Homo sapiens: one gene and its partners. The protein of the gene in region 3 interacts with the protein of the main gene of each other region in a pairwise test. Each region holds a gene or a part of one and is shown on either strand. Other genes may lie near its edges.

What was found.
Region 1: the proteins of SLC41A1 (region 3) and GPR101 interact in binary tests that used the Homo sapiens proteins (3 or more experiments, as listed by UniProt).
Region 2: the proteins of SLC41A1 (region 3) and SLC10A1 interact in binary tests that used the Homo sapiens proteins (3 or more experiments, as listed by UniProt).

The regions. Positions count from the first base shown.
Region 1 is NC_000023.11:137,027,495-137,031,151, reverse strand, and holds part of GPR101 (probable G-protein coupled receptor 101), read left to right. Parts: coding exon 1-1,004; 3' UTR 1,005-3,657. UniProt on the Homo sapiens protein: Orphan receptor.
Region 2 is NC_000014.9:69,774,911-69,777,730, reverse strand, and holds the end of SLC10A1 (hepatic sodium/bile acid cotransporter), read left to right. Parts: intron 1-1,342; coding exon 1,343-1,449; 3' UTR 1,450-2,315; downstream 2,316-2,820. UniProt on the Homo sapiens protein: As a major transporter of conjugated bile salts from plasma into the hepatocyte, it plays a key role in the enterohepatic circulation of bile salts necessary for the solubilization and absorption of dietary fat and fat-soluble vitamins.
Region 3 is NC_000001.11:205,803,061-205,806,717, forward strand, and holds part of SLC41A1 (solute carrier family 41 member 1), read right to left. Parts: intron 1-3,657. UniProt on the Homo sapiens protein: Na(+)/Mg(2+) ion exchanger that acts as a predominant Mg(2+) efflux system at the plasma membrane.

The DNA of each region.
Region 1 (3,657 bases), on a different chromosome or scaffold from region 3:
TTGATGAGCGCAATGCTCTCTGCTCCATGATCTGGGGGGCCAGCCCCAGCTACACTATTCTCAGCGTGGTGTCCTTCATCGTCATTCCACTGATTGTCATGATTGCCTGCTACTCCGTGGTGTTCTGTGCAGCCCGGAGGCAGCATGCTCTGCTGTACAATGTCAAGAGACACAGCTTGGAAGTGCGAGTCAAGGACTGTGTGGAGAATGAGGATGAAGAGGGAGCAGAGAAGAAGGAGGAGTTCCAGGATGAGAGTGAGTTTCGCCGCCAGCATGAAGGTGAGGTCAAGGCCAAGGAGGGCAGAATGGAAGCCAAGGACGGCAGCCTGAAGGCCAAGGAAGGAAGCACGGGGACCAGTGAGAGTAGTGTAGAGGCCAGGGGCAGCGAGGAGGTCAGAGAGAGCAGCACGGTGGCCAGCGACGGCAGCATGGAGGGTAAGGAAGGCAGCACCAAAGTTGAGGAGAACAGCATGAAGGCAGACAAGGGTCGCACAGAGGTCAACCAGTGCAGCATTGACTTGGGTGAAGATGACATGGAGTTTGGTGAAGACGACATCAATTTCAGTGAGGATGACGTCGAGGCAGTGAACATCCCGGAGAGCCTCCCACCCAGTCGTCGTAACAGCAACAGCAACCCTCCTCTGCCCAGGTGCTACCAGTGCAAAGCTGCTAAAGTGATCTTCATCATCATTTTCTCCTATGTGCTATCCCTGGGGCCCTACTGCTTTTTAGCAGTCCTGGCCGTGTGGGTGGATGTCGAAACCCAGGTACCCCAGTGGGTGATCACCATAATCATCTGGCTTTTCTTCCTGCAGTGCTGCATCCACCCCTATGTCTATGGCTACATGCACAAGACCATTAAGAAGGAAATCCAGGACATGCTGAAGAAGTTCTTCTGCAAGGAAAAGCCCCCGAAAGAAGATAGCCACCCAGACCTGCCCGGAACAGAGGGTGGGACTGAAGGCAAGATTGTCCCTTCCTACGATTCTGCTACTTTTCCTTGAAGTTAGTTCTAAGGCAAACCTTGAACTGTCCATAACACGAGAAACAAGAGGAGATTTCTTTTCAATGGACCCACAATTCATTAATGCCAAACCATACCATTTCAGGCAAAGGTGTTGCACACACATGCTCTTCACCACAAGGTAGATAAATATATAGAAGAGGCAGGAACTGGGGTCTTTCCGTAAAAGCATGGACTTGAGGATTCTGACTGAAATTTTCCCCCCAAAGATTATTAGGCTCTACATTTCTTAAAGCAACAAGGGCTATCCATTTTGGACTTGTAGTTGGTATTCTATCTTTTCCAGAGCTACAACATGCCAACTTTAGCTCTGAAGGAAAGGGAAGATGATGCTTGTGAACTTAAGGACTTTTCGGCCCTCGGGTCGGGAGCTCATGGGCCAGAGCTACAGCTTGTGTTCAACTGAAAGAAAGGCAATGGACCAAATCATTCATGGAGCCCAAGAAACAGAACCTAATGGACTGATCAACATATGAGCCAAATTCTGAACTGAACAGCCCCACAGTCGGGTGCAAAGACTGTTACACAAACTAAAACAAAGGGCCTCCTACAGTTAGAATCTCAAGAAGGTTTCTAGATCCCCTAAAGGGATCCAGAAAAGTAGAAGGACATGTATGAAATGGGAAGCTAGTCCAAGGGAAAAGATTGAGAAATAACACACATCTGGAGAGCTAAACAGTTGACTTTTTTTCCTATAAAATCTTGGGTTTATGCATGGGCTGGAACTGAGGTCATTAAGTGTAAATTGTCAATTGACACAAATATTTTCTGTCTCCTGTTTGAATAATAGTGGGGCAGAAATCATGCCACTATTTTACAACTTCCCTTATGTGACTGAATTGAGATGCTGGTGGGAATTCTTCAGATCTCTGCCAACACTTCTGTTTTCTTTTGGTTTGTTTTTGTCAAATAAGCCTTTTTTAGTCAAACAGTATTTACAGAAAAAAAGAAATTCAACTAGAAGTGGCCTAAGTCCTACAAAATTCATGATGTCACTGAGGAATAATTTGTTCATCAGAAATATATTTTGTGTCCATGAGATCATAGACAATAAATGTGATCTCCACATGGGGAGCAAGGAAGGCAGAATGAACATTTTTCTTCCTCCAGGCACACCCATGTGTCTTTTCCACCTGTGGCTCTCTTTAAAGCTTTTAAGCTCTCTGCAGATGTGAAAGAGAAATATCAGAGAGTCAGAAATGACAAAGAGGATGATTTCACAATACCTAGAAAACATGTAACCTATTCCAAACAGTCCTAAAATCAGAGCATTCAGATCAGACATATCCTAATTAATGCTGTTGAAATAAATCACGTTGGGAAAACTTTAACAATATCTAAATTATCCCTAGGGTCAATTCACAGGAACATTCCTCAAATCCCAAACCGCAAAATAACTTTGGGCAGGGATATACATATACATTTCTGAGGGCATGGGCCGTATGTATGTGACCAAGTAACATGGAACCAAAAAAACAGTCAAGCCAGTGTTTTTGATCCTCCTACAGAACAAGTTAAAGCAACTCCAGAGTCAACCAACTGTTCATGCAGAAATCCACTGTCAATATGGGTGGAGGGAGTGTTTGGTTGAAAATGGTTAATCAGGTAGTTGTATGATGTAAGATGACCATCTTCAGAGTTTAGCCTCATTCTTGTGTGATTGTCATGCCTTTATTAGAACTCAAGTTTCATTTAAATAAATGCCCAGCTCATTTATTTTTTTTTATCTCTTCCTCCTCACAGATTTCAACATGAACTTCTCAAGGGGTAAACAGCAATGTATTTGGACTGTGAATAACTCTGCATGGGAATTTGGGATTGCCATGTTCAGAATTTAGGAAAGTAGAGGGAATAGAACCAAATAATATAGAGCTGACCCATCCAATAAAAATACCATGATAACCTTATTAATTCCAACTCCATTAATTTGGAACTTGTAGTTATTCAGACAAGGCATGGGGGCTAAAGTTTACCCTTACACTATCATTTATTTTTCTACCAAAATGCATAAAGTGAATTAACAGTCATAAATTTGTTCTACCAATTTATTGCCAAACTCTTGAACTGACCTTTCCTTAAAGGATATCTGGGTGAAGAAATGGCCTATGTGATCAATCCTCCTACAGGGGAGGGGCAGTGCCTTCAGGTCTGTTCAAATTGTCAAAGGAGTTCAAGGTAGCTATAGCCTATCCTTTGAGTAGAAATGCTTACTTGGGTAGGAAACAGGATTTCAAACATAAATGTCTCCAAACATTGTGTTAAAACTGAACTTCTTGTTTTATTTTTAAAGCTCACCCCCTTCAAAGTGTATCAGAGAAAATTGTTTGCCAAAATCTCAAATCAAAATGGAACCAGAACCTGTACAAGTATGGTAAGTCCATTTAACAGCACACACAACATTCTCAAGGGCACTGAGATTCCCTTTCCTTTTTGAAGTTCCTCTTTTCCCTATTTTAGTCATTGTCCATTATTTTGGTAAATTGGATTCCTCAAAAGTGAAGACCTTTTGAAACTATGAGCCTGGAAAAGAGGACCTTTTAATTAAGAGCATTCTGCTTTGATGACATTTTCTTCTAAATGAACAATAAGGCCTATGGTTAGCTTGGAGATAGCAAGTACTCGAAATTTTTTGC
Region 2 (2,820 bases), on a different chromosome or scaffold from region 3:
TATGGGGTTAACATAGCATCTCTTCTCTAAAATGCTCAGAGTATTACCTTTCAAAATAAAATTGAACCTCAAGACAGACCAGAGAACAGAGTGCCTTCCTCAAAGTGCACTTTAACACCAATTTTAAAAAAAAAAAAAAAAAAAAAAAAAAACAGGACATTCAAACCCACTTTATAACACATTTCATTATAACTCTCAACATTAGTATATTCTTCCTAAGTACCTACCCAAATCCTTCAACTGTCCCTTCATGTCCATGAATTGAAGTCCCCTTCAAAACCTTTCTAGACCCTAGGGACTGTGATTTACACCCTAGGAGAAATACACAACTTTCCCTATTGGAATTTGTTACATTATACTAGCAAGCAAATGCCGATTCTCTCTCCCTTTGCAATTAGCTAAGATGTAATTAGGTTGCCAAGCAGCCAACACGAAACAAGTACAGGCTGACCATACACTAGAACCATTTTAGAAGCTTTGGTTCAAAGCTACAGTAGAGTTGTGAGAAAGAATCTACTCTGATGCTTATCTGAGAGGAACGCAAGAGATTTGCTGCCCTCTTACAAAAAGTGCACAGAAGTTTCTAGACCAACCAAATTCCCAGATTTGAGGTTTTAGTACCAGAAAGACCTGAAGTGACCTCAAAGGACAATACTCTATGGATCTTTAGCTCTCAAGACTTGAAAAGAACTTTCCTCACAGTGTATCTCAGAAGACCCCAGTGGAAACACTAAATCAAAGCAACGTATTTCTTTGGACCTAATGGCCCCAAGAAGCTATTCTCAGGGGGGAGGAATCTGTCAAGTTTTTATACTTTTCATTCCTGCACCTGATGGGAGAACAACTCTGTATAGAGAACTCTCCCATCTGTATAGAAAGGTGCAGGAATCAAAGCTATCTTCAAATTTGCATCACCGCCTACACCACGGACAAGAAGAGGTAGATCAATTGGGGGTTGGAGGGAAGAACTGGAAACTCTCTTGGTTAGACTTTCTCGAAGATCTTTCCTGCCTGCCTCCTCATTCCCTGAATGCAACACAGACCTTGCATACATAAACTCATCTCCTGTTGTTTTACTGTATAACGAAGTTAGAAGTGAAGTGATGATGAAGACACAATAGTCTAATTCATTAGGACTTTTACTACTAGTACTACCATTAGGGAGACTGAGGGGAAAGTGAGTTTAAAGAGTAAACCATGGGAGAGACGACAGAGATGGAAAATATATACTTAGCACACTCTAGGGCTGAGTTGGTATTTTTGTACTTTCCAGATTAAACAAGCTTCATTGTTCACTCCTCTTGTTCTCTCTCTACACCTGTAACCCTTTTTAACTTTACAGATAAAACAAAAATGATCTACACAGCTGCCACAACTGAAGAAACAATTCCAGGAGCTCTGGGAAATGGCACCTACAAAGGGGAGGACTGCTCCCCTTGCACAGCCTAGCCCTTCCCCTGGTGGCCTGGATTCTGGTCCCAAAGCAATTCTGAAAGCCAGTGTGGTAAACTAGAGAGAGCAGCAAAAACACCAGTCTTGCCTGAGTCTTTCTCCAGCATTTCCAGTACATCTATCAGAATCATCAAGTCTTGGCCGGGAACACAGACAGGGTGTCTACCCAAGAAGCCTCACCTATCCCCAACTTAGAATTTGCTACTTATTTTAAAGACTTGTTCAGTGACTGTAAACTCTATGAAACCAGAAACCGAATCTGCCTCTTGCTGGGATCTCTAAAAGTGTCTGATAAGCATCTTAAAGTCACTCAATTCCTGAACTAATCAATATATATGTTTAACCCATTACTCAAATACCCAAATCCCATTCCAAGTTTTGTGACCCAAAAGAGAAATAAATGCTCACAAGTGCTGTAGAATTAAACTTCAGAAGTTCTAACCTAAAAAGTTCAGATCCTATTCCTTCCCTTTTGACATTATTGGGATGATGCTCCCGAAAAGTCAAATTTGACATCAAGTATGCAAAAGTGAACACAGTAAGATGCAATCAGGCAAAACAAACTCAAAAAATAGCTAATGAAATGAAAAAACTGGGCGAATGCATCATGTTAGTAGAGGAGGAAAACTTTTGACAAGGAAAAACCAGGAAACAAACACATACATTAACACAATGTTACCTCACTAATAATCTCTTTTTTAAGTTCAGTAGGTATTTGGTTTTAACACAAGGCGCCCCCAAAACTGGGTACAGCAAACTACTGCCAAAATGAGTCGTTTCCCAATTCAAAGAAAAATGTTCAAATACCTAGAATTCACAAATTTCAAATTGTCTCTAATAAAATTTAAACATTTTGCATATCATATGTAAATAAGGATCAAGTAAATGATTAACAACTAATATTAACAATTACAAAAAGTCAATCATGCTTATTAGTTACTTGGGATTTTTATCATTTTGTATGGTCAGGTACAAATGAAACCAAGACAATATAGTTTTCGGGTATCAGTTTGGCAAATGTGCAGGACTAACAAGTACTCCCAACACCAAAACGAGAAACACAGATTTGGGTTACTAACATCCTCTTAAAAACGCAGATTTTTGACAAGGCTACCACCTATCATTTTTACTTATTATATCCATATATACCTACCTGTTCAAATTGTTTTCTCTATTATCTAACCAACATCATCTGCTAGGAGACTTGGTTACATACAAGTTATGTAAGAACACATTTGTTTAGCTTTTGAGGAAGACAGGGTTGGCCTCAAACCATTCTTAGAAAGGAATAAAGATGGCCGGATGCAGTAGTTCACACCTGTAATCCCAGCACTTTGGGAGGCCGAGTCGGGCAGATCATGAGGTCAA
Region 3 (3,657 bases):
GGGGAGGCTGAGGCAGAAGAATTGCTTGAACTTGGGAGTTGGAGGTTGCAGTGAGCCGAGACAGTGCCACTGCACTCCAGCCTGGGTGACAGAGCAAGACTCCGTCTCAAGAAAAGAAAAAAGCATGTGGAGATTGGAACCCTTGTGCACTCTTGGTGGGACTATAAAATGGTGCAGCTGCTATGAAAAACAGTACGGTGGTTCCTCAAAAAATTAAAAATAAAACTACCACATGATCCAGCAATCCCACTTCTGGATATTTATCCAAAAGAATAGAAAGCAAGGTCTTGAAGATATATTAATATGCCCATGTTCATAGTAGCACTATATGTAATAACCAAGAGGTGGAAGCAACCCAAATGTCCATCAAGGAATGAATGGATAAACAAAATATGCAAAGTGTGGTACATATATACCATGGAATATTTCTCAGCCTTAAAAAGGAAGGAAATCCTGTCATATGCCACAACATGGATGAACCTTGAGGACATTACTCTAGTCATAAAAAACACTGTATGATAAAACACTCAGATAAAAAACACTTATCTGAGGTATCCAAAGTAGTCAAATTCTTTTTTTTTTTTTTTTTTTTCTTGAGACACGGTCTCACTCTGTGGCCCAGGCTGGAGTGCAGTGGTGCAATCATGGCTTCGGGCTCCAGCCATCCTCCCATCTCAGTCTCTCGGGTAGTTGGGACTAGAGGCATGCACCACCACACCTGGCTAATTTTTGTATTTTTTGTAGAGACAGGGGTTTCACTATATTGCCCAGGCTGGTCTCGAACTCCTGGGCTCAAAGGATCCTCTCGCCTCGACCTCCCAAAGTGTGGGGACTACAGGTATGAGGCACCGAGCCCAGCCTAAGTAGTCAAATTCATAGAGGCGGAAAGAAGAATGGTGGAAGCAAGGCGCTGGGGGAGCAGGGAAAAGAGTGAGTGTTTAATAGGTACAGAGCTTCAGCTGGGGAAGATGAGGAGTTCTGGAGATCTGTTGTACAATGAGGTGAATATACGTAGTACTATTGAACAGCACACTTAAAAAAGGGTTAAGATGGTAAATTTTATGTTACACATTTTTTACCACAATAACCAAAAAGATAAGCAAGGCTATCAGAGGGGGTGGGGCTAGGGCTTGAGACCAGGAGAGGCTGGGCGCTGGGTGGCCCTATAAGGCAAGAACCTCTCTTTTCCTGTCGGAGCTCTCCCTGTGTGAATGGGGTGGGAGGCCTCACAGGATCCTGGGGAAGGACTCATTTCACTGGGGCTGGAGCATACGCTTGCCTGAGCTTCTGGTCTGGCCAAGACCTGGGACTCTCCTTAGGGAAGCCCCACCGTAGGGACTAACAATGGGGAAGAGACTGCCCCCCATCTCAACAACAGTTACTGGGCTTCCAGGCAGCCAAAGGATGAGCCAGCCCTCTCCAAACACTGAAGGGAAGTGAATCCCTTCCCACCCTAAGACCCCCCAGAGAGAAGGCAGCCCCAGTGAGCCCCATCTGCCCTGGAGCAACTTGGGGACTGTTACTCTTGGACACGGCTGGTACATACCACTGAGGCTCCAGCTCCCTGCAGTCTGGCCTTGCTCTGCTTCGCCTCCTGCTTCCTCCCAAACCAGCTCCAGAGAGGGGAAAAATCCCCCTCTTCTCCCCTCCCTTGCGGGCTTTCAAAGCTCCTCTCAGAGCACAGCCTCAGAGCTCATCTTCACCCCAAAACACCAGCTCCACCCTGCTTCCAAGCTGCCAGCTCCATGAAAATCTGACTTCTACAGGTAGGTGTATGTAATGTACATGTACTCATAGAAAGAAAAAGCCCACAAGAAGACTCCACATGTATGCAAGCAATGTTTTCTGAGCTGTTTGTAATGAATATTGCTTGCTTTTATTATTATTTAAGAAAAATGTATAAAGCTCAGCTAAGTTCCTCTGGTTGCTACCATAAGCACCCCAAATCTCTCTACCTCCCAGCACAATGCACCCTCTCCTTATAGCTACAGGAGGATCTACAAAGTACGGAGTGTTAGGAGCAGTGGGATAAGAGACAGACAGGCAAGGAGAGGGAGCAGTCACAGTAACAGCCCCTATGCAAAAGTCTTCCCGACTCTTACAGAATATAGCCTGGAACCTCAAACGACCTGACCCCAGGCCAGCAAAGCCCCGAGTTGGCACTTGGGTCAGAGAAGCCAATTCCTACACACATACTTTCTTCACCCACAAACCCTCTCAAAGCTGCAGCTCAGGCAGAAAGCCTCTGACACATGGGCATGCATAGGACTCTGGAAAGAGATGCTGGAGGCTGGAGATGTGGAGCCAGCCCAGGAATCAAGGTGGCCTTAAGGTTAGGAGTAGACAGGATGGGCAGGGGCAGACAGTGAGTAGCTCTTCTTCCTCCTTTGGCCAAATTCAGCCCCATCCTGTTCATCCAGGCTAGGAGTATCTGCCCCTGAAGTCACACCCGTCTGCCAAGCAGCCACCCACGCCTTCCTGCTCTGATGGGGATGAAAAAGGGCATGTTCCAGGAAGTGCTGCCCTGCTTGGAGGTGAGGGGAGCATCTAGATTTTAACTACTTCTCAGAAATGCAGCTCCTCATCTCTTTCCTTCTCTAACCTTGGTGTGAGGGGCTCATGGATCCCTGGTATTCTGCAGGTGAGGGAATAGACTGCCTCCCCCATAGCCAAAATGAATCCTGAGGCACAGCAATCACCTTAAGTCTCGATCCTCAGTGGTCCTGCCAGTACCTCTTCCTTGCCCTTCCAATGCGCCTCTTCCATCCTTCACCTACTCCAATCCAAGCTCATACACTGACCCTGACCTGCCTTCAAGGGTTCTGGCCTGAGCCACCTCAGGAGGGTAGCAGCAGGGAAGAAAGTCAGAGCCAGGAATCAAGACATTAAGAAGACTTAAATTCCCAGATACAAGCTTTAGGCTCCAGGCTGGGGAGAATCTGGGCTCCTGTGGGAGAAGCTGGGCTGGAGCTGATCTTTTAGGGTAAGGACTGGGTCAGATGAGATTACAGTAACCCCAGGCTTCACCTGTCTGAGGCTTTTCCAAAAGGCATCCTCTAGGTGTCCAGGAAAGGGCTTTAGGGCAACACCTGGATATACGGTGCAGGACAAAGCAGGAGCAAAGCAAATGGGTCCCTGACAGCAGGCAGGGGACAGAGATGGGAAAAGCAGAAGGGGTGGTCAAGTGAAGCAGATAAGAGTGTCCCGCCCAGGGATGCTGCGGCCACAGGAGCAGGCCAGGCACAGGAGGAATACTTCCTTCCCACTCTACTTCCCCAAGGCCACGCTTGCCATGCACTTTCATCGTTGTAGACTTCTGTATACACAGCAGGATCTACTTTGTTCAAGATCCTTAGCAGGTGAGTAGTGAGTTAAAATAAGGACCTGTCTTAACCTAGCTGGGAATTAAAGTGCAGATGGGCACACTACTTCCTGTCACCCCATCCCTCACAAAGGCTGACAGATAAAGGGAGTGAGACATCCGGAGCAGCCTAGGACCAAACTGGGCAGATGGGCACAAGGCTCCTGCAGTGAGGAGGCTCCCATATCCCAACCCCCTTCAGAAGCCAACACCAGGCCCCAGCCTGCTTCCCTTCCAGATGCTGCAGGAACTTTCAGCCATGGTTGGGAAGTTAGAGCAGATGGAGGTCCATTTAT